3 linked regions of the Homo sapiens genome follow. The protein of the gene in region 1 interacts with the protein of each later gene in a pairwise test. Each region holds a gene or a part of one and is shown in the gene's direction. Other genes may lie near its edges.

Region 1 (7,336 bases):
TTTGCATACTAGGCCTGTAACTCAAGGTTTTTCCCAAAGCTTGTCTAAAGCGTGTTTCCTCCATCAGGGAAGAACATAATTCTATGGTCTAATCCATTTGGGAAATGCCAAACCAAACCAGGTAAGACAGATTTCTTTCCTGCAGTGAATACTTGCTTGTTAGCATTGTTTTTATTTATTAAGGTGTAAGAGAGAGGTATTATGAACATTTTTCCACACTGATTGAGCATTTTCAGAAACTAATCTGTGCTACACACTTTGGCACACCTACTTTGGGTATTTGCTCACTTATCTAAGTGCAGATAAGTTCTCTTTTTCTGGAGGTAAATCTGTGAAGACACTTCTCTTGGGTTTTAGAAATTGGTTCTGAACCCCTCTGTAATGGATGAGATTCCTGATAGAAGAGGAGACACTGATGGGCTGAATCAAGGCTCTACTAATTTACTCATTTACTCATTCATTTATGCACTCATTTATTTCACAAAGACACATGGAGCCCAGGGAAATAACTATAAAGATGACTGAGACATAGATTTCTCTTCATTAAGTTATCCAGATAATACACATCAATCATCATTTCTTACAGTAATTTTAATGAATGGAAACCACATATTATGGACTGAATTGTATCCCTCTCAAATTCATATGTCTGAGTCCTATCCTCCAGTACCTTAGCATGTGACTGCATTTGGAGATAGGGTCCACATTAAAGAGATAATTAAGGTTAAATAAAGGAGGGTCCCTAATCCAATAAAACTAGTGCCCTTATAAGTAGAGGGAGAGACACCAGGGATGCATGTGCACAGATGAAAGGCCATGTGAGGACACAGCAAGAAGGTGGCCAAAACAAGCCTAAGTAAGAGAGAGGCCTTGGGAGAAATCAAACCTGTTGACACCTAGATCTTGGATTTCTAGCCTCCAGAACTGGGAGAGAATAATAATTTCTGTTATTTAAGCTACCCGGTCTGTGGTATTTTGTAATGACAATTGGAGCAAATTAAAGCACTGCTGTTACTTGTTCATTAGGTCCTTGACTTCAAGAGCTTTCCTCAGCTAGTTCTAATGTCTACTGAAGCTTTATAATTCCTTTACTTGTATTTTAGAAGAATTTTATTAGAACCAACTAGATTGTAAACCTCTTGAGAACAGGGAATTTGTCCATTGTATCGCTGCATTTCCTGACTGACTGACAGAGAGAAAAGCATCTGGTAGAACAAATATGTCATCTACATTTCTACTTCCTTCTGTATATTAATAATTGAGGGATGACCTAATACATCTCTTGGAAAGAGAAAGAAATAAGAAAAAGAGAACTACAAAGTGTTAAGCCCATAGTTAGATGCTTCACACGTCTTCTTATTTAATACTTTTCTTCTATTGTGAGATAAATATCTTTATCCCCATTTTGCAGATGAAGAAACAGAGTTCAGAGAGGTTAAGTGATTTGGCCAAGATCATAAAATCATAAAATGTCAATGATTGCTTAATTATAGGAAAGGGGAAATCTGGCTGTACAGCAGAGCTTATGAAAAATAACTGAAACTTTTAGTGGACTACATGTTTATTTCAGTGACATTCTTATAAGTGATATGGCCATCAAAAAGTTAGAGCAATATTAAGTTACACAAATAAAAATAATGACTATACTGCGTTATTGGGCATTCACTAAATGTCAGGCACTGTTCTTGGTTACACATATTCTTGATACATATTCTGGAAGGCTAGTGAAAAAAATTTAAGTGTCTTCAAAGGCAGATGACCAAATGATCAGTCTTTAAAATGAGGCTATACTGGTTGGATAAACTGTGAAGATTTACTCTGGAGAAGATTGAAGAGGACATGATAACTGTGTCAAATATTTGAAAGGTTTCCAGTAAGAAGAGGGAGTTAGATGTAGCAATGGAATTCAGAGGAAGTGAACCTTCCACTACTGAAAGTATTCAAATAGATGTGTCCATGTAGAAGCAACTCCTGCATTTTATGGGAAATCAACTAAAGTCTTAAGTTCCTTAAACTTGAAGATTTTAAGATTAATAAATATCATCATCCTAGTCATTTTCTTCTCCATTAACAAAGTTAGGCTTGGAGGAAAAAAAATGAGTGCTGACTTCCTTCTGGAGCTATTCTAAACAGCAAAATAAACTATCATCAAGGTGAACAGACAACCTACAGAATGAGAGAAAATTTTTGCAATCCATCCTCCTGACAAAGGTCTAATATCCAGAATCTACAAGGAACTTAAATAAATTTACAAGAAAAATAACAAACAACCCCACTAAAAAGTGGGCAAAGGACATGAATAGACACTTCTCAAAAGAAGACATTTATGCAGGCAACAAACATATGAAAAAAAGTTCAACATCACATCCTTAAAGAAATGCAAATCAAAATCACAATGAGATACCATCTCATGCCAGTCAGAATGGCTATCATTAAAAGTCAAGATACAACAAATGCTGGTGAGGCTGTGGAGAAATAGGAACACTTTTACACTGTTGGTGGGAATGTAAATTAGTTCAGTCATTGTGGAAGACAGTGTGGCGAGTCCTCAAAGACCTAGAACCAGAAATACCATTTAACCCAGCAATCCCATCACTGGGTATATGCCCAAAGGAATATAAATCATTATAAAGATACATGCACATGGATGTTCATTGCAGCACTATTCACAATAGCAAAGACATGGAATCAACCCAAATGCCTGTCAATGATAGACTGGATAAAGAAAATGTAGTACATATACACACCATGGAACACTATTCAGCCATAAAAAAGAATGAGATCATGTCCTTTGCAGGGACGTGGTTTGAGCTGGAAGCCATTATTCTCAGCAAACTAACACAGGAACAGAAAATCAAACACCATGTTCCCACTTATAAATGGGAGTTCAACAATGAGAACACCCGGACACAGGGAGAGGAACACCACACACTGGGGCCTGTGGTGGGGCACAGGGAGAGAATCAGGACAAATAGCTAATGTATATGGGGCTTAATACCTAGGTGATGGGTTGATAGGTGCAGCAAACCACCATGACACATGTTTACCTATGTAACAACCCTCCACATCCAGCACATGTACTCCAGAACTTTAAGTTAAATTAAGTTAAAAAAATAGCCTAGGAGAGAAACATATCAATTCTCTCATCATCATTGCTAAGGAGTCTTGACTAGGAAATTGTTGTTCAATTTAAACCCTTTTCTATATTGATTCTTTTATAATTATATCAAGAAAATTCAGTCTCCAGGTTTCAAAGCTGATAACATTACCTATTTTGAAAAGATTGCCTATTTATTTCTGCCTTTATCAGCAAGAGAAGCTCATCCTTAATGCCTATCATTGGGCTAGGCATTAGCAGAAGCTTCTTAAATACAATAGGATATGGTTGAGTGTTTTTCTTATCTGGGATCAGTGTTTCTTGGGAAGTACCTACAGAGATACTCTGAACTACATGTGAGTGAGTATGATGATAGCGAACATCATTAGAGGAATTAGAGTAGATAACTCATGTGTAAGCACCAGAGAGCAGTTATGTGATGTGATGGGGCTACCTAGAGCCAAAAAACACAAATTAAAGATTTACCGTGTTGTGGGGCATCTTGATACACTGCAGAACAGTCCTAGCGAGGACGGGTCAAGAAAGACACTGCATTGATGAGTACAATATACCCAGAAAATCCAGGCTGTTGGAGGATGTGTGTGTGTGTGTGTGTGTGTGTGTGTGTGTGTGTGTGTGTATCAAAAGCATCCAAAAAATCACATTGTTGTGGCTGTGAACACTTAACTAGTAAATAAGAAAGACACGGTGGCAGGGAGGAAAAAGAAAATGTATCCACAGGGTGTTCCATTCTGCTGTTCAGAACATTGTGGTTGCTCAAATAATATTAATGCTCTATGATGAAGATGGTAGCGAGGATGATGATGATTAATGCGACCCATGCAAAATAGGGCTGGGGAGGATGACATAGGCGAGGGACCAGAAGAGGGAGGATGACTCATGGGTGAGGGGTACCTGGGGATAGAGCGAGGTGCTGTGCACGTTGGCGACTGTAGGGGTAGCGGCCGGGGCACGCGTGGCTCGGACCCGGGGAGTGGGCGGGTGGGTGCCCGTGGGCGGAGCGGCGCCGGGACTGAGTGGCTGGCAGCTATGTCTGCGAGAGCAGCGGCATCACCCTGGATGGAAGCCTCTGAGACTCCGCCTAACTGACACCCAAACTCTCCCTCTCCCTCCCGCAGCCCCAAATTGGAGGCAGCAGAGCCTGGGAGCAGCCTCCACGGCGGCAGCGGCCGCCCCAGTCCCAGCCCCAGCCCCAGCCCCAGCCCCGCCCCCGCCCCGCGCCCCGCCGGAGACGCCCGGATCGGCGGAGCCTGGCGCGAGCCCTCGCCCCCTCGCCTCTCCCGCCGCGCCTCCGCCTGCCCGCCCCCGCCGGCCGAGGCTGGGCTGCGGGAGGCGGCCGGGCGGCCCCGAGCTTCGCTAGGGCGACCAAAACAAAGGCAGCATCCGGGGCTGGGTGGATGCAAACAACCATGAAAGACTGGGTTCTCGCTCTCCCCGGCTCTGCTGCTGCTGCTGCTGCCGCCGCCGCCGCTGCTCCTCCTCCTGCCGCCGCCGCTAGGGCTCCGCTGTGAGGGGGAAGCAGGGGCGCAGCTGCTGGGCGTGCATCCGAAAGGTGAGAGCCAGAGAGCGAGCAGAGGGGGCGGGCAGGCCACGAAAATGTCCTCGGCCGTGGGGCCCCGCGGTCCTCGCCCACCCACGGTGCCTCCCCCCATGCAAGAGCTGCCCGACCTGAGCCACCTGACCGAAGAGGAGAGGAACATTATCATGGCAGTGATGGACCGGCAGAAGGAAGAGGAGGAAAAAGAAGAAGCCATGCTCAAGTAAGCCAGCCCCAGCCGCGCCATCCATGCCTCCGTGCCTCCATCCGTCCATTCACCACTCACTCCCCTAGTCCTCGCGGCTGAGTGTGGGGAAGGGGCTGCCAGGGTGCTGGGTGCGGACGGAGGCGCCCGCCTTGGGCCAGGGGCGCGGGGCTTGAGCAGGGAAGAGGTCAGGGGACCGGAGGAGGGAGGGGATATGCCACAGATCCAGGAACCCAAAGGCCGGGGGAGGATGACTTGAGACTGGGGTGCAGAGGAGGGATGGGTGGACGGGGGCCACGCTCGTGGTGGGAAGTGCAGAAGCTGAGAGGTGCTGATCCCACCCAAGTGGAAGGTCCCTGGGCTGGGAGCAGGTTAGGGGGCAGGGGATGAGTAGAAACAAGGGGAGGCAGGATGAAGAGGTGCTGAGGACAGCTCCTCTTCTCTTCTTGGAGTTGTTTAGCTGGTCGGGGTTACCCCAGTGAAGGCTGCCTATATTTATATAATAAAAATGCTTATTTTTAGTGTTCATTTTAGTAATCATTCATCTCACAGATCAAGGTTGGGTCTTTTTTTGGGCAATTGCCATCTTTGGTAACCTGCCTCCCCAGCTTCTCTTTAACCTTTTATTCAGAGTCTTCTACACAGCATACCTGTGTGAAGACAGATTCTCTTCTCCATATGTAATGCCACTGGCAATACAAAGTTTTTAATCATGGGAGAAGCTGACAGGGACTCTGGCCTGAATAACATAGAGGTTCCTCTTTAGTGGTTTCCAAGAGACCTCTGGGGCCTGTTCAGTTCCTGGAGGAAACAGTCCAATAAGGGATTGGGAATTTGCACTCCTCCTCACTTCTTTAGAGCGCATCAACCCTTCAAGGGATTTCTGTCTGATGCCCCATTTTCCTGGTGATGGGGAGAAGATGGGACTACTTGCTGGTGGTGCAGGAGTGTGTGACACTGTGCTGCTGCTTGCCTCAGACAAAACTGCTTACAAGGGACTGGCAGAGAGACGGGGCTTTCCTTGCTTAGCATCACCCATAGAGTAGAGCTGAAGGAGGCTTCAACCCTGCCTTTTCTTGGGAAGTCTTCATGTATTCAGGAAAGTTTTCACTCTGAAGCAGGGGAATGTAGGGGCCCTGACTGTGACTGACTCCTTGGTGTCCCCTGCTTAGGCTGGAAGGTGTATCTGGGGCCAGGGGATTGGCATGAAGAGCCAAAAGGAACCTGTTGCATCTGGAGTTACCTGATAGCAAAAGAGGGGTGGGGAGGGAGCAGGGGTGAAACCCAGACACAGAGCACATTCTGCATGGCCTCTCCCCCACCCCCTAGAAGTGCCTCCTCGAGAGAAGATGCTGCCGAAGAAGATTTCTTCTGCTTCCCCTCAGTGCAGCAGTGCCTCATAGGAGAGGAATGGAGGGAGGCTGCATTCACAGACCGATGGTTCCCCAACCAGGGCAACTGACACTCAGATAGGGGAGGGGGATACTGAGGGAGAGATGTGGCTGTTAGGTCACAGCAAAATAGTAGAAATCCAGTCATTCCTGTTCTTTCATTGTAGATTCAGAAAAGGGCCATTAACTCCGAAGGCCAGAGCTGGCCTGGTTCTATAAAGAGCAGCAGGTTTCTGAATTCCCTGCTCCTTCTCATCCAAAAATCAAATACTTTAAGCCTGCCGGCTTGAGGGAGGCAGAACCCTCGTTAATCTGCTGCCTGTCCCTAGTGGAAGAATGACGTCCCTGGTGCTGCAGGCTTCCCCTCTTCTGAGACTGGAAGTAATGGATGGTGTCTGATAGTGCTGCTGTCTGTCTGTCTGGTTGTCAGTCCGTCTGTACTCACTGGTTACAGCCCCTGCCACCTGTCCTGAACACCTTTTCGGCTTGTCAGGATTTACAGGTTTGCTGCTGTTCCTTTTGCTGTTTGCTGCAGACAGCAGGTGGATGGAGGCCTCCAGTAGCTAGTGGAAAATATAGGCTGCTGCTTGCCAGAGTCCGGATAGGAAGGGGAAGGCACGGTGCAAGTAGTGGCCATCATGCCTCTTCATTGGCTGTCTCAAGCATGGTGGAGAGTGAGGGATTTTAAGTGGGAGTGGGTGAGTTTTAGGACAGAATTCCAAACCTGCTAACTGCCAAAGGACAGCAATTATAAGATTGTATGGGCTTATATGGGCAAATAAAAATTAGGAGCACTGTCCAACTGCTCATGTCTAACACATCTTTTCCGCTGCTTTTCCTGTGACTGCTTTCTACTGGCTTGCATATATTGTTCCTTTGTTGCATGGATTCACAAAATATCACTGTATATGATGCTGTTATACAACAGCTCTCTATAATCCTGGACCTCTGTATTAACTTTATCCATCAGCCTCCTCTGCTAATGTCTTGGCCTTTTGTTCAGTGACAGATTGGTGAGTGTTTTGGAATCCCAGTTTGCTGCCATGTAAGCATGTCATATTGTCTGCAATTAGTGGAAAAGTGCT
Region 2 (7,110 bases), on another chromosome or scaffold:
CATTGGCATGTTCTGGAAGGAGCTGTGTAGCTTTCACAGTGTGGAGCCCTTGTGTCAGTGTTATAACTCAGGTATAGTCCATATTAATTACCTACATTACTGCACTGCTAAGTATTAGACTTCCTGCCAATTGAGTGGTGAATGTACAAGAATGAATGGGAGCTCTCATTCTGTTGAGAACCTTTTTTCTTAAAGTTAGGTTTGTTGAGATGTAATGTTCATCTGTTTTAAGTATACAGTTTGGTGAATTTTGACAAGCGTATAGTTATGTAACCGCTATCACAATCAAGATGTAGAACACTTCCATTGCCAGAAAGGTCCCTTATGGCCCTGTATAGTCAGTGCCCTCTCCCTTTCTTAGCCCCTGGGTAACCACTGATCTGCTTTCTGTCCCTGTAGTTTTGCCTTTTCTAGGATGCTATGTAAATGGAGTCACAGTGTAAATAATCTTTTGTGTCTTCTTTCACTTAGAGTAGTGCTTTTGAGATTTATTTGAATGTGTATCAGTATCAGTAGTTCATTCCTTTTTATTGCTGAGTAAGTATTTCCTTGTTTGGATGTGCCACAATTTTTTTTAATCCACTCACCAGTGATGGACATTTTTGGCTATTGTGACTAGAACAGTTTTCTTTTAGTATTCTGTAAAAATACTTTTTATTGTGCTTACCCCAGGAATCTTATTTAAATTTTAAGTAATTGTATATAACTGTGATAAGAATGTCGCTTATTAGATCAAGACTAAGAAAAGGCAGGCCGGGTGTGGTGGCTCATACCTGTAATCCCAGCACTTTGAGAGGCTGAGGCTGGCGGATCACGAGGTCAGGAGATCGAGACCATCCTGGCTAACATGGTGAAACCCTGTCTCTACTAAAAATACGAAAAATTAGCCGGGCGTGGTGGCAGGCACCTGTAGTCCTAGCTACTCGGGAGGCTGAGGCAGGAGAATGGCATGAACCTGGGAGGCAGAGCTTGCAGTGAGCCGAGATTGGGCCACCACATTCCAGCCTGGGCGACAGAGCCAGACTCCATCTCAAAAAAAAAAAAAAATTAGCCAGGTGCGGTGGTGCATGCCTGTAATTCCAGCTACTCAGGAGGCTGACGTGGGAGAATCACTTGAACACAAGAGGTGAAGGTTGCAGTGAGCCGATATCATGCCACTGCACTGCAGCCTGAGTGACAGAGTAAGACTCTGTCTCCAAAAAAAAAAAAAAAAAAAAGCAGACAACTTGCAACATTATCTTCATCCTTGTACACTAATTTGTTTTTGTTTGTTTGATTTCCAAATATTAATGTCCACCCTTAGTGAATGGGTATATAAAAGTTTACTGTTGGCCAGGTGCAGTGGCTCACGCCTGTAATCCCAGCACTTTGGGAGGCCGGGGCAGGTGGATCACCTGAGGTCAGGAGTTCGAGACCAGCCTGACCAAGATGGCAAAACCCTGTCTCTACTAAAAATACAAAAATTAGCCGGGTGCGGTGGCGGGCACCTGTAATCCCAGCTACTTGGGAGGCTGAGGCTGGAGAATCGCTTGAACCCTGGAGACGGAGAGTGCAGTGAGCTGAGATCAAGCCATTGCCCTCCAGCCTGGGCGACAGAGGGATACTCCGTCTCAAAAAAAAAAAAAAAAAAAAAAAGGCCGGGCGCGGTGGCTCACACCTGTAATCCCAGCACTCTGGGAGGCCGAGGCGGGCAGATCACGAGGTCAGGAGATCGAGACCATCCTGGCTAACACGGTGAAACCCTGTGTCTACCAAAAATATAAAAAATTAGCCGGGCGTGGTGGCAGGTGCCTGTAGTCCCAGCTACTCGGGAGGCTGAGGCAGGAGAATGGCGTGATCCCGGGAGGCGGAGCTTGCAGTGAGCCAAGATGGCGCCACTGCACTCCAGCCTGGGCGACAGAGTGAGACTCCATCTCAAAAAAAAAGTTCACTGTTGCTGCATCGTGTTATAGCTCAAAAGAACTACTCAATCTGATCCAGTGAGGTTGCTGAGACTCAGAGAGGTGACAAAGGCTGCTAGTAATGACAGAAGACCACTAACTATTTAGTAGCAAAGCCTCTACTGGGCCCCAGATCTCTAGCTTAGGCTCCACAAGGAGATGTAGTTGTACCTGTACATAGAGTATTTCTAAAACTTTTTTTTAAGCTTGTAGATCAGGGGTGTCCAATCTTTTGGCTTCCCCGGGCCACATTGGAAGAATTGTCTTGGGCCACAGATAAAATACACTAACACTAACAATAGCTGATAAGCTTTAAAAAAACTGCAAAAAAAATCTCACAGTGTTTTAACAAAGTTTATGAATTTGTGTTGGGTCACTTTCAAAGCTGTGGTGGGCTGCATGCAGCCCTAGGGCTGTGGGTTGGACAAGCTTGCTGTAGATTTTATTTTGATTTTGAGACAGTATCTCGCTCTGTCACCCAGGCTGGAGTGCAGTGGAGCAATCACAGCTTGCTGTAACCTTGACCTCTTGGGCTCAAGCAATCCTTCCGACTCAGCCTCCTGAGTAGCTGGGACTACAGGCGTGCCCCACCACATGCATGGCTAATTTTTAATTTTTTCGTAGAGATGAGATCTCCCTGTATTGCCCAAGGTGGTCTCTAACTCCTGGGCTCAAGCAGGCCTCCTGTCCCAGCCTCCCAAAGCACTGGAATTACAGGTGTGAGCCACCACACTCAGTCAAAACTATTTTTTAAAATATTTTATTATAGGAAAATTTAAAAAAATAGAATGTTATTTATCAATGCTTCTCAGCCACAGGGTGATTTTGCCCTCTAGTGGACATTTGACAATGTCTAAAGACATCTTTGGTTATCACAGCTGGAGAAAGGTTTGGCTGACCAGGAATGCTACTAAACATTTTACAGTACGTAGGACAGCCTTCCACAGCAAAGAATTACCCGGCCTAAAATGTCAGTAGTGCCAGCGTTGAGAAACCCTGGTATGTACTTAGCCCCCCATGTACTCAACAGCGCAGCTCAGTGGCCAATCTTATTTCATTTATAAATGAAGAAGCAAATGCAGTATCATTTCCTCTCTAAAGCTTTTAGAAGAGATAAAGCCTGTTTTAAGAAAAAAGCAATACTTTTATCATATTTTCTTAATATCAAATATGCAGTATTTAAATTTTCTCACATTTCTAATTTTTAAACTGTTCAAATTAGAATCCAGCTTGAATTCATACATTATAGTTGGCTGATATGTCAAATATGCTTTTTTTTTTTTTTTAATTGAGATGGAGTCTTGCTCTGTCGCCCAGGTTGGAGTGCAGTGGTGCAATCTCGGCTCACTGCCAACCTCTGCCGCCCGGGTTCAAGCGATTGTCGTGCGCAGCCTCCCGAGTAGCTGGGATTACAGGCTCCCGCCACCATGCCTGGCTATTTTTTTTTTTTTTTTTTTTTTTTTTTTAGTAGAGATGGGGTTTCGCCATGTTGGCCAGGCTGTTCTCAAACTCCTGACCTCAGGTGATCCGCCCGCCTTGGCCTCCCAAAGTGCTGGGATTACAGGCGTGAGCCACTGTACCTGGTCAAAATATGCTTTTTAAAGGCAACCAAACAGTTTGCATTTCAGTTTATGTTCTATAGTTATATGGAGCCACGGATACATCCTTTTTCTATACTGGCAAAATGAGAAACATATTTTTCACCTGAATTTCAAAGGATATGACACTTCGTAAGCCTGGTAATGTTATTGGCCAAAGTACCAGAGGCCCAGGGCTTTCCCAGTTATTTAACAGTTACTGATATGTGTGCATCATGTACTTATTATTAGTTAATGCAAATAGTCCCCCAAATTTCTGACCTCTGTGAAACTGATGATGCTGTTGTCTAGTCAGTCATCGGTTATGTGAGACTGAATTAACCTATTCAGCAAGTGTGAATGCCTACCGTGTGTATGATACTGTGCTAGGTGCTGTAGAGGCCATATACCTGGGACACATAGCTTTCCTGCTCTTTAGGATTTCCTGCTCCTTGCAGGACAAAGCAGCCTGAGCTTTATGAAACTAGTCTGTAACTCTCAAACTTAAGCAAACATTAGAATCACCTGAAGGGCTTTAGAACCGTGATCACTGGGCCCTACCCCTAGACCTTGATTTTACCCGTAGAATTGGAATTTCTAACAAGTTGCCAGGTGATGTTGATGCTCCAGGTCCGGGGACCACTCTTAAGAATCACTATAGCAGGAATTTCTGATGTTTATTTATTAAGAAAAAAAAATCACTGCCTTAGTGTGCAGTGAAGGCTTGCTAACTAAACTATACTCCTTTTAGATTGTACTGTGACTATCAAAGGAAGATTTCCAGACCATTTAATTGAGTTTTCAGGTTCCATGAGTTTAAAAAAAACTGTTTATTAAAAATTGTGGTTCTGGAAAATAACAATAGTTGCCATTTGGTGATCACTTAACTGTATACCAGCCAGCAATACTTTGTAGAGTATCTCATTTAAAATATGTAATATGGTTTTATTTAATTAGCTTTTTTTTTTTTTAAATTTCCTGAGGCGGAGTCTCACACTGTTACCTGGGCTGGAGTGCAGTGGCACGATCTCGCTCGCTGCAACCTCCGCCTCCCGGGTTCAAGCGATTCTCCTGCCTCAGCCTCCCAGGTAGCTAGGATTACAGGCAGCCGCCACCACACCCAGCTAATTTTTAAATTTTATTTTATTTTTTGAGACAGAGTTTCACTCTTGTTGCCCGGGCTGGAGTGCAGTGGCATGATCTTGGCTCACTGCAACCTCCGCCTCCTGGCTTCAAGCAATTCTGCCTCAGCCTCCCGAGTAGCTGGGATTACAGGTGCCTGTTACCATGCCCAGCTGATTTTTTTGTATTTTCGGTAGAGACTGGGTTTCACCATGTTGGCAGGCTGATCTGGAACTCCTGACCTCATGATCCTCCCACTTCCCTCCTCGGCCTCCCAAAGTGCTGGAATTACAGGCGTGAGCCACTGTGCCCCGGCTTAATCAGCTTGTCAACTTCTAAGCACAACCTGTTGAATCAAGCTGTTTGGGCCTTATCAGAAAAAAGTTGGCCTATAGTTTCAGCTACTCAGGAGGCTAAGGCCAGAGGATCACTTGAGGCCAGGAGTTCCAGTCGACCTGGACAACATGGTGAAACTATGTATCTTAAGAAAGAAAAAAAAAAGTTGATCTCTGAAGAATTCATGAAAATATTTAGTCAGTTTTCAGGGAAAGATCTTATAGACTTCAATTTGAGCATCCTTATCTTATGTATGTAAATGAGGTAAAGGTTGAAATTTGCAGTAAATAGAATTTTGGTCATTTAAGTTATGTAGCTCATGATATATACATTGTATAACTATTTAGACTTACATGGTGCATGATTTACATTGTAATTACATAGAGGCTTATACAGTCTAATAAAAATTAATATTAACTATTTGATTGCAAAGAGGATTGTTCTGCATTTTATTACTTTTTTTTTTTTTTTGAGACAGAGTTTCACTCTTGTTGCCAGGCTGGAGTGCAATCTCGTGACCTTGGCTCACTGCAACCTCCGCCTGCCAGCCTAAGTAGCTGGGGTTACAGGCACACACCACCATGCCCAGCTAATTTTTTGTATTTTTAGTAGGGATGGGGTTTCACCATGTTAGCCAGGCTGGTCTCAAACTCCTCACCTTGGGTTATCCGCCTGCCTTGGCCTCCCAAAGTGCTGGGATTACAGGCTTGAGCCACTGCGCTCGGCCTGCATTTTATTATTCTAAGATATAGCCAAATTTTATGCCTGGAATTTTTTCCTGGGCTGGAACAAATTCCTAGTAAGAGTCAGGGAATATTCCGTGACTTGTGGCTTTGGTTAAAAAAGAAAAAGGAGTCAGGGAATGCAGTACCCTCTGATCACCACTGGGAGGACTAAAGCAGAAAATTCATTTGTCTCATATCCATTTTCAAATTTCAAATTAAACATGAAGGAGAAAATAAATCTCTTACCTGGGAAGCTTTAATGTCCTGTCTCACACAAGAAGTTAAAGGTTGTGCTTGGAGTTGGTCTGCAAAAGTAATAAGGAATTTGTACTCACCCGTCTGCACCTGCTTGTACAGAACAATTGGAAGGGCAGAAGTTGGCTTTGAAAGAAAAGGCCTTTTTTTGGAGGTGGGAGGGGCATCCAATTTTGTCTTCAGCCGAGAGTTCGCTAGCACTACACTCTAGCCACTCAAGCTGCTCAACTATGGTTGGTCTTGTGTACTTCTGTGTGCACTAGATAAGACATTGTTTCTGTGGGTTATGTGGGACCTTGAAGTTCAGTGTTGAAGCTCAAACAAAGCAGGTGTTTTTTCTGTATTTCTTGTTGACAGGCATTTGCTTTTTGTTGGACCTAAATATTGTGGGGTTTGTGTATGGACATTTGACACAAAAATCTGTATTGGTAGAATTTAATATAAAATCAGAGAAGTTGAATTCACAGGTTTTGTTCATAGAATTTTACATAACTCTAGTCTTTTTTCTTTTTTTGTGATGGAGTCTTGCTCTGTTGCCCAGGCTGGAGTGCAGTGGCATGATCTTGGCTCACTGCAACCTCTGCCTCCTGGGTTCAAGTGATTGTCCTGCCTCAGCCTCCCGAGTAGCTGGGATTACAGGCACCCGCCACCACGCCTGGCTAATTTTTGTATTTTTAGTAGAAACGGGGTTTCACCATGGCCAGGCTGGTCTTGAACTCCTGACCTCAAGTGATCCACCTGCCTCGGCCTCCCAAAGTGCTAGGATTATAGGCATGAGCCACAGCGCCTGGCCACAATCTTACACTACTTTCCTGAAGGGATGTGTGATGGAAAGAGTCTGGGCTTGAAAGTGGAAGACAAAAATGAGAGTCTAAGACTGATCGAGATAAAGATTCTGAAGAGGTAGAATGGACCTCATAAGATGGAGCAAAAAAGAAGGAACAACATATAAAAGGAGAAATTAGAATTTAGAGTTATAGACTGGAATTTGAAACTAGTCTTGAGATTTAACTGTGGACAAATTCACTCGGCTGTGCCTCATGGTTTTTTTTTTTTTAAATCAAAAGAGAATAACATCATTCAAGTTGTGTCTTGGTTTTTTTGTTTGTTTACTTAGATTTTTATGACTTCACTTTCTCAATTTCCTCTGTGGCC
Region 3 (7,110 bases), on another chromosome or scaffold:
ATTATTTTTATAGCCCCTAAAGTGAAAATAACCCAAATGTTCATGAGGTGAAGGGATAAACACAATGTTGTATCTCCATACAGTGGAATACTGTTTGCCAATAAGAATAAGCGAAGTACTAATACATGCTGCACAAGAGTCAAACTTGAAAACATTATGCCAGTTACAAAAAAATACTTTATATGATTCCATTTATAGGAAATGTCCAGAATCAGCAAGTAGATTAGTGGTTGCTAAGGGTTAGAAGGGGTAGGAGAGAGATGGGAAGTGAATGCTGATGAATATGTTGTTTCTTTTTGGAGCAATGAAAATGTTGTCATTTAAATAGTGGTGGTAGTTGCCGTGTGTGGTGGCTCACGCCTGTAATCCCAGTACTTTGGGAGGTCGAGACAGGTGGATCACAAGGTCAGGAGTTCGAGACCACTGGCCAATATGGTAAAACCCCGTCTCTACTAAAAATACAAAAAAAATTAGCCAGGCGTGGTGGCATACGCCTGTAATCCCAGCTGCTTGGGAGGCTGAGGCAGGAGAATTGCTTGAACCTGGGAGGCGGAGGTTGCAGTGAGCCAAGATTGTGCCACTGCACTCCAGCCTGGGTGACAGAGCGAGACTCTGTCTCAAAAAATAAATACATAAAAAATTTAAAAAATAAATAGTAATGATAGTCGCACATCTAAAATCCATTGAATTGTATACCTAAAGGGGTCAATTGTATGATACATGAATTACTAGCCTACTGTTGATCAGAATCCTTAATGATCACATGACCAATTAACATGTATTTTGTATGTGTGTTATATAGCATATTTTTACAACAAAGTAAGCTAGAGAAAAGAATGTTAAGACAATCATAAAGAAGAGAAAATATACTTACTATTCATTAAGTGGATAGATCATATGAAGTAGATGATCATAAAGGTCTTCATCCTCATTATCTTCGCGTTGAGTAGGCTGAGGGGTTGGTCTTGCTGTCTCAGGAGTGGCAGAGGTGGAAGACAATCTGTGTATAAGGGAACCCATGCAGTTCAAACCTGTGTTGTTCAAGGTTCAACTGTATGTAGATGCATTTGCTTCCACGAGCATAAATAATCTCTGAAATTATACACACTGGTTGCTTATGGAAAGGAGAGCTGGATTCCAATGTGGGTAGGCATGGGAGGGAGATTTTTACTAAATATCCTTTTGTGTTTATCAAACTTTGTACCCTGGCATTGTATTACATGTTTTTCAAATAAATAAAAGTTATATAATGAGATATTAATAGCTTATCTTCTCTCTTGATTTTACTATATCCAGGTCCTTCAAGGGTTAGATTACTTACACAGTAAGTGCAAGATCATTCATACTGACATAAAGCCGGAAAATATCTTGATGTGTGTGGATGATGCATATGTGAGAAGAATGGCAGCTGAGGCCACTGAGTGGCAGAAAGCAGGTGCTCCTCCTCCTTCAGGGTCTGCAGGTGAGGGAGCTGAGCCAGCTTCATTTCAGTGTGGGGGCATTGGGAGCTTGCAAAGTTGCAGTTGTTGAAGGTATCTGAATCAAACGTTACACATAAGGAAGATTTTGGAAAAGTTTAATTGCTGGAAATAACTGCACCCTTGAAATGGAAAATGCCCCAGCTACATTATATTTTAATATTGGAAGTATTTACTTTTGTCCCCCTTTAAAAGGCCATTTAAATTTGTAGTTGCTGCTTCATCTATATTTGAACAGTTTTTTCTGTTGCCAGCTTCTCTGCAGAGGAGAACATAGTAACAGCTTTCCTGTAGCTGACCTTTAGTCATCAGAATATTTTTCTGGCTTCAATTTTGTGTACATAAATTCTTGTTGTCCATTTAGCATAGCTATGTCAACCTGAGTTGTATCAACAGATTTGGAGTTAGTTAGAAAAGGCCTGATGGTGGGGGAAGAAGATCAAGTGACCTGAGTATTGGGATATCTTTATTTCTGGGGCGGGGTCGGGGAGGTGGTGCAGTGAAGTGTGGACTGTGCTTCTCACTCTTCGACACCATGATCTGTGCCTTTGTGTGTTGTCAGGCAAGCATGGATACTAAAGGGCTGAGGCTCCTGGGACTGCCTGGGGCTCTCTTCACATCTCCTTTACTGCCATCAGGGTGTTGTTTAGATCATGGACCCAGCCTGTTAAGCTTTTGACCCTGGTGTAGGGGTTTAATCATGTGATTCCTAGACTATTTGCTGCATACCAACTGCAGTATTTGATTTAAATTATAGAAAGCTTGCAAAATAGATTCCAAATATCGATGTACATCTACATTGTTCATTTCATTATATTTTAAACAAATTTGGTTTAATGACTGTGATATGTATTCTTTTCCATTTTCTTAAGTGATCTGTTGGTGCTTGAGCTTGACTGTGTTTGAGATGTATTAGTATTTCATTTTAGATAAATAAGAGAAATGGCTCAGTATGAGTAACTTCTGCTGTGACTTCAGGAGTCACTCATTTGTTTCAGTGGCATAAACTTACTCTAGATCCTTGTGATTAAGAAGCTCTGATTAATAGTTTTTGAAGTTGGATAGCCATTAAAAGACAATAATTATTTCACTTTGCAATTCGAATGACCTACATGAAGGCATGTGTCTGTTTTCTGCTAAATACAGATTTTGTTTGATTTTATTTTAGTGAGTACGGCTCCACAGCAGAAACCTGTAAGTACTTACGCATATTACTTTATATGCACCATGTTAAAAGAGACCGTTTATTATTGAGTTGTTCAAATTATAAAAAAGTTGTGTATTTAAAGGGTAGACACATTTATAAAAGCTGTGTATCCTCAAATAGGTAAGACTTAATGTCTTGTTAATTTTTTTTTTTTTTTTTTTTGAAAACTGAGTTTCACTCTGTTGCTCAGGCTGGAGTGCAAGTGGTGCGATCTCGGCTCACTGCAACCTCCCCCTCCCTGGTTCAAACGATTCTTGTGCCTCAGCCTCCCGAGTAGCTGGGATTACAGGCACCTGCCACCGCACCCAACTAATTTTTGTATTTTTAGTAGAGAGGGGTTTCACCATGTTGGCCAGACTGGTCTCGAACTCTTAACCTCAAGTTATCTGCCTGCCTCGGCCTCCCAAATTTCTGGGATTACAGGTTTGAACCACCACGCCCAGCCTGTCTTGTTAAGTTTTAATGATCTGTGCAGAGTTGGGATAGTTAGAGCCTTTCAAAAATTGTCTTCTTTATGCATTTTCTGGACTATGGTGGCCAAGTTTAGTGAAATGTGAGGTGATGGAGTTGAAGTATTTTTATTTCAAAACCACTTTACATTATTTCTGATTGGCTGCTAAGTTACCTGTTTTTCTGAAGCTGTTGTTCTAATTTTTTCCATGCGGATGTTAAATAAGAAAGAGACTGATCTATTTTGTGGTCCTGTCAAAACACTATGTCCTTATTAGATACTGGGTGTGGTGACTCACGCCTGTAATCCCTGCACTTTGGGAGGCTGAGGCCACTAGATCACTTGAAGTCAGGAATTCAAGACCAGCCTGGCCAACATGGTGAAATCCTGTCTCTACCAAAAATGCAAAAACTAGCTGAGTGTGCTGGTGGACGTCTGTAATCCCGGCTACTCAGGAGGCTAAGGCAGTAGAATCACTTGAGCCCAGGAGGTAACGGTTGCAGTGAGCTGAGATCACGCCACTGCACTCCAGCCTGGGCGACAGAGTGAGACTCCATCTCAAAAAAAAAAAAAAAAATTAGCCGGGTGTGATGGTGTGCACCTGTAGTCCTAGCTACATGGGAGGCTGAGGCATGAGAATCACTTGAACTCAAGAAGTGGAGGTTGCAGTCAGCTGAGATCACGCCACTGCACTCCAGCCTGGGCAACAGAGACTCTGTCTCAAAGAAAACAACAACAACAACAACAAAACACTATTTTTACTGAGACAGCTCTTGATTTGGAATGTAAGTTCTGGAACAAGAGGGAGCTTTAATAATTAAGCTTCCTGGCCTGCTGAGAAGCTCAAGTTGTTTCCCATAGTTCTTCCCTGGCTTGAGCTGCTTGAATTTACTGATTGATTGAAAGGTTGGAGGCTGTCATTGCCAGTGCTTTGCAAGTCAGGTAACCATGACGGGAGGCAGACAAAAGCTGTAGCTTTTTCTTTTTTCCCTTTGCAGCATAGGCTTATCTCTTACAGTTCATGTTGTCTTGGCTGCTAAGAGCTTCATATGTGAGACCCAAACACACAGTGACATACACCTGCTCGGGCACCTGTTTCATTTTTGGCATTGAGGAGCTGGGATGTTGTTACTTTGTATATAGACAGCAGCAAATAAAACTTGCAAGAGGAGCTTCTCCTTTAAGGCCAAGAGAATTTCGAACTTCAGTTCTCTTAGAGTTTGAATGGTGAAGACTTACTGGATTTAAGCTATATCCCTCTGAGGGCAGGACCTGGTAGTAGACCTAGTACGTGATATCAGTCAGCACTGCTTTCCCTTTGATTTTATCGTAAGCCTTACCACAAAGTGGATCTGTCTGGGTTTGGGATTTTAATAGAATATGGCATGAGAAAGCAGAGTTTATTGCTATTTGCCATGCTGCTAGTCGTTATACTATCGTGGTGCTTTAAAAAGAAGAATACTGACCTGTGGTCTTTCCTTAACATAGATAGGAAAAATATCTAAAAACAAAAAGAAAAAACTGAAAAAGAAACAGAAGAGGCAGGCTGAGTTATTGGAGAAGCGCCTGCAGGAGATAGAAGAATTGGAGCGAGAAGCTGAAAGGAAAATAATAGAAGAAAACATCACCTCAGCTGCACCTTCCAATGACCAGGATGGCGAATACTGCCCAGAGGTGAAACTAAAAACAACAGGATTAGAGGAGGCGGCTGAGGCAGAGACTGCAAAGGACAATGGTCAGTGGGGCCTGGAACCTGGGCTGCATGGGGTTCTCAGAGCTCCATTAGTAGGGTTCTGCCAGGTCAACATGGGGGCTGATTTGTGCTGCTGCTGCAGATGACAAGGATGATTCTCTCCAACTCCCTATTGGGAAATATGGGAAATAGCCTCGTACTTCATTTGTGAACTGTATGCCAGAAATATGTTAACATTTCAAAATAGTTTTTAAAAATGTAAAATAATTGAGAAATTCCATGTTTCTATCATGCTAATGATGGTGCTTTATTTTGTCATTAACTTTTTACCTAACTGTAATGCACCACAAGTCTGTTTCTGAAGATTATAGAGGGTAGAAATGGAAGTGCAACTTTATTTAGAAAGAGTTATTTTCCCTTAAAGCTAACTTTTTCTTATAAGAGCAGGCCAATTACTAAATGAATGAAAAATGAGATTTAGAAAACCTGAAGGTTTTACCCCAAAAGCCAAGAGGTGTTTACCAGGTGGTACATAAGCATATTCAAAATGTATTTTATTGATGGAGATAAGTACTTAATGAGGCTGTATTAAGGAGAGTAACAAGTTCTAATTCTTGACCCATCAAATTCTTAAGGTGAAGCTGAGGACCAGGAAGAGAAAGAAGATGCTGAGAAAGAAAACATTGAAAAAGATGAAGATGATGTAGATCAGGAACTTGCGAACATAGACCCTACGTGGATAGAATCACCTAAAACCAATGGCCATATTGAGAATGGCCCATTCTCACTGGAGCAGCAACTGGACGATGAAGATGATGATGAAGAAGACTGCCCAAATCCTGAGGAATATAATCTTGATGAGCCAAATGCAGAAAGTGATTACACATATAGCAGCTCCTATGAACAATTCAATGGTGAATTGCCAAATGGACGACATAAAATTCCCGAGTCACAGTTCCCAGAGTTTTCCACCTCGTTGTTCTCTGGATCCTTAGAACCTGTGGCCTGCGGCTCTGTGCTTTCTGAGGGATCACCACTTACTGAGCAAGAGGAGAGCAGTCCATCCCATGACAGAAGCAGAACGGTTTCAGCCTCCAGTACTGGGGATTTGCCAAAAGGTAAGTGTTTCTTCCCATCAACTGTCTGCCATCGCTGACTCCAGGGACGTGCCTTTAACAAATGCTGTGAAGGAATTGGCTGGAAGTGGCCAAGCCCTGTGTGTGTGTACTGATCAGTTTTATTACTTTTATACTCCTGAAGAAGTAATGTGATTTAAATAAATTTTCTATGCCATTAGGCTATTTCTTGCTCTCTGCATACCAAATCTTATTTCTGACCAGTTTTCATTTTTAATATATTTAGTCAGCAGCATCATTTGCAAAAACCTTCCAGTTTTAGCAACTTACACCTTTCTAGAATGTGTAGTTTAGTTTAAAATTCGTATCTTCTTCCATCTAATGTCATTATATTTAGTTTAGTTTAGTTTTGTTTTGTTTCTATTCAAGAAAATTATGCCTCCTCTTTGACTCTATTGAGAAAGAAGTGTCATATTGTCTTTTGATAGTTGTTCCTGATTATAGGACCCTACTATTGGTAACTGGCCCAGGATTGTAATTTTCAAGGAATTGGCATGGATTTAAATGTGATGACAGATTATAGATTGGCTCTTGTGTTCTTGTCTACCTAAGAAGGCTTGACTTATTCAAAGCCTTATTTTGGGAGTGAATGCCAAGTGACTCTAGTAAGTGAAAACTGGGTAACACAGCTGGTTTCCATACTGGCTTATGGGGGAAAAGCTCTGAAACCTCCCTCTGCTCCCTCTACTGACAAGACTGTTTAACACACAGCGAGTAAAATTGATGAGCCAGCCCTGCAAACAGCCCGACATTCTGCAGCCCCTTTGGTTCCAGCAGTCTGGAATTGCACGCCGAGTAAGCTGGCTTTGTTACGCACTGGCTATGATGAATCCTCCTAAGGATTTGCTTTCTTTACTTGGCTGGACGTGGTCAGCTCCTGTTCCCCTTTCCAGGGAGTGTTTGAAGGTGCTTACATAGAATGTAGGTTAATTTCTGGGAAAGGGCAGTAGTGAGAGGTACCTTATCCAGACTTATTGTTGCTGTTGCAGTTCAATTTTTCTCTTACTTGAAGTTTCTTTTTTTTTTTATGAGATTGAGTCTTGCTCTGTCACCCAGGCTGTAGTGCAGTGGCGCGATCTCGGCTCACTGCAACCTCTGCCTCCCGGGTTCAAGCGATTCTCCCGCCCCAGCCTCCTGAGTAGCTG

The links.
Region 2: the proteins of RIMS1 (region 1) and MARK3 interact in binary tests that used the Homo sapiens proteins (3 or more experiments, as listed by UniProt).
Region 3: the proteins of RIMS1 (region 1) and SRPK2 interact in binary tests that used the Homo sapiens proteins (3 or more experiments, as listed by UniProt).

The regions. Positions count from the first base shown.
Region 1 is NC_000006.12:71,882,310-71,889,645, forward strand, and holds the start of RIMS1 (regulating synaptic membrane exocytosis protein 1), read left to right. Parts: upstream 1-4,240; 5' UTR 4,241-4,714; coding exon 4,715-4,878; intron 4,879-7,336. UniProt on the Homo sapiens protein: Rab effector involved in exocytosis. May act as scaffold protein that regulates neurotransmitter release at the active zone.
Region 2 is NC_000014.9:103,388,332-103,395,441, forward strand, and holds part of MARK3 (MAP/microtubule affinity-regulating kinase 3), read left to right. Parts: intron 1-7,110. UniProt on the Homo sapiens protein: Serine/threonine-protein kinase. Involved in the specific phosphorylation of microtubule-associated proteins for MAP2 and MAP4. Phosphorylates the microtubule-associated protein MAPT/TAU. Phosphorylates CDC25C on 'Ser-216'.
Region 3 is NC_000007.14:105,140,845-105,147,954, reverse strand, and holds part of SRPK2 (SRSF protein kinase 2), read left to right. Parts: intron 1-1,296; coding exon 1,297-1,462; intron 1,463-2,646; coding exon 2,647-2,672; intron 2,673-4,624; coding exon 4,625-4,871; intron 4,872-5,464; coding exon 5,465-5,947; intron 5,948-7,110. UniProt on the Homo sapiens protein: Serine/arginine-rich protein-specific kinase which specifically phosphorylates its substrates at serine residues located in regions rich in arginine/serine dipeptides, known as RS domains and is involved in the phosphorylation of SR splicing factors and the regulation of splicing.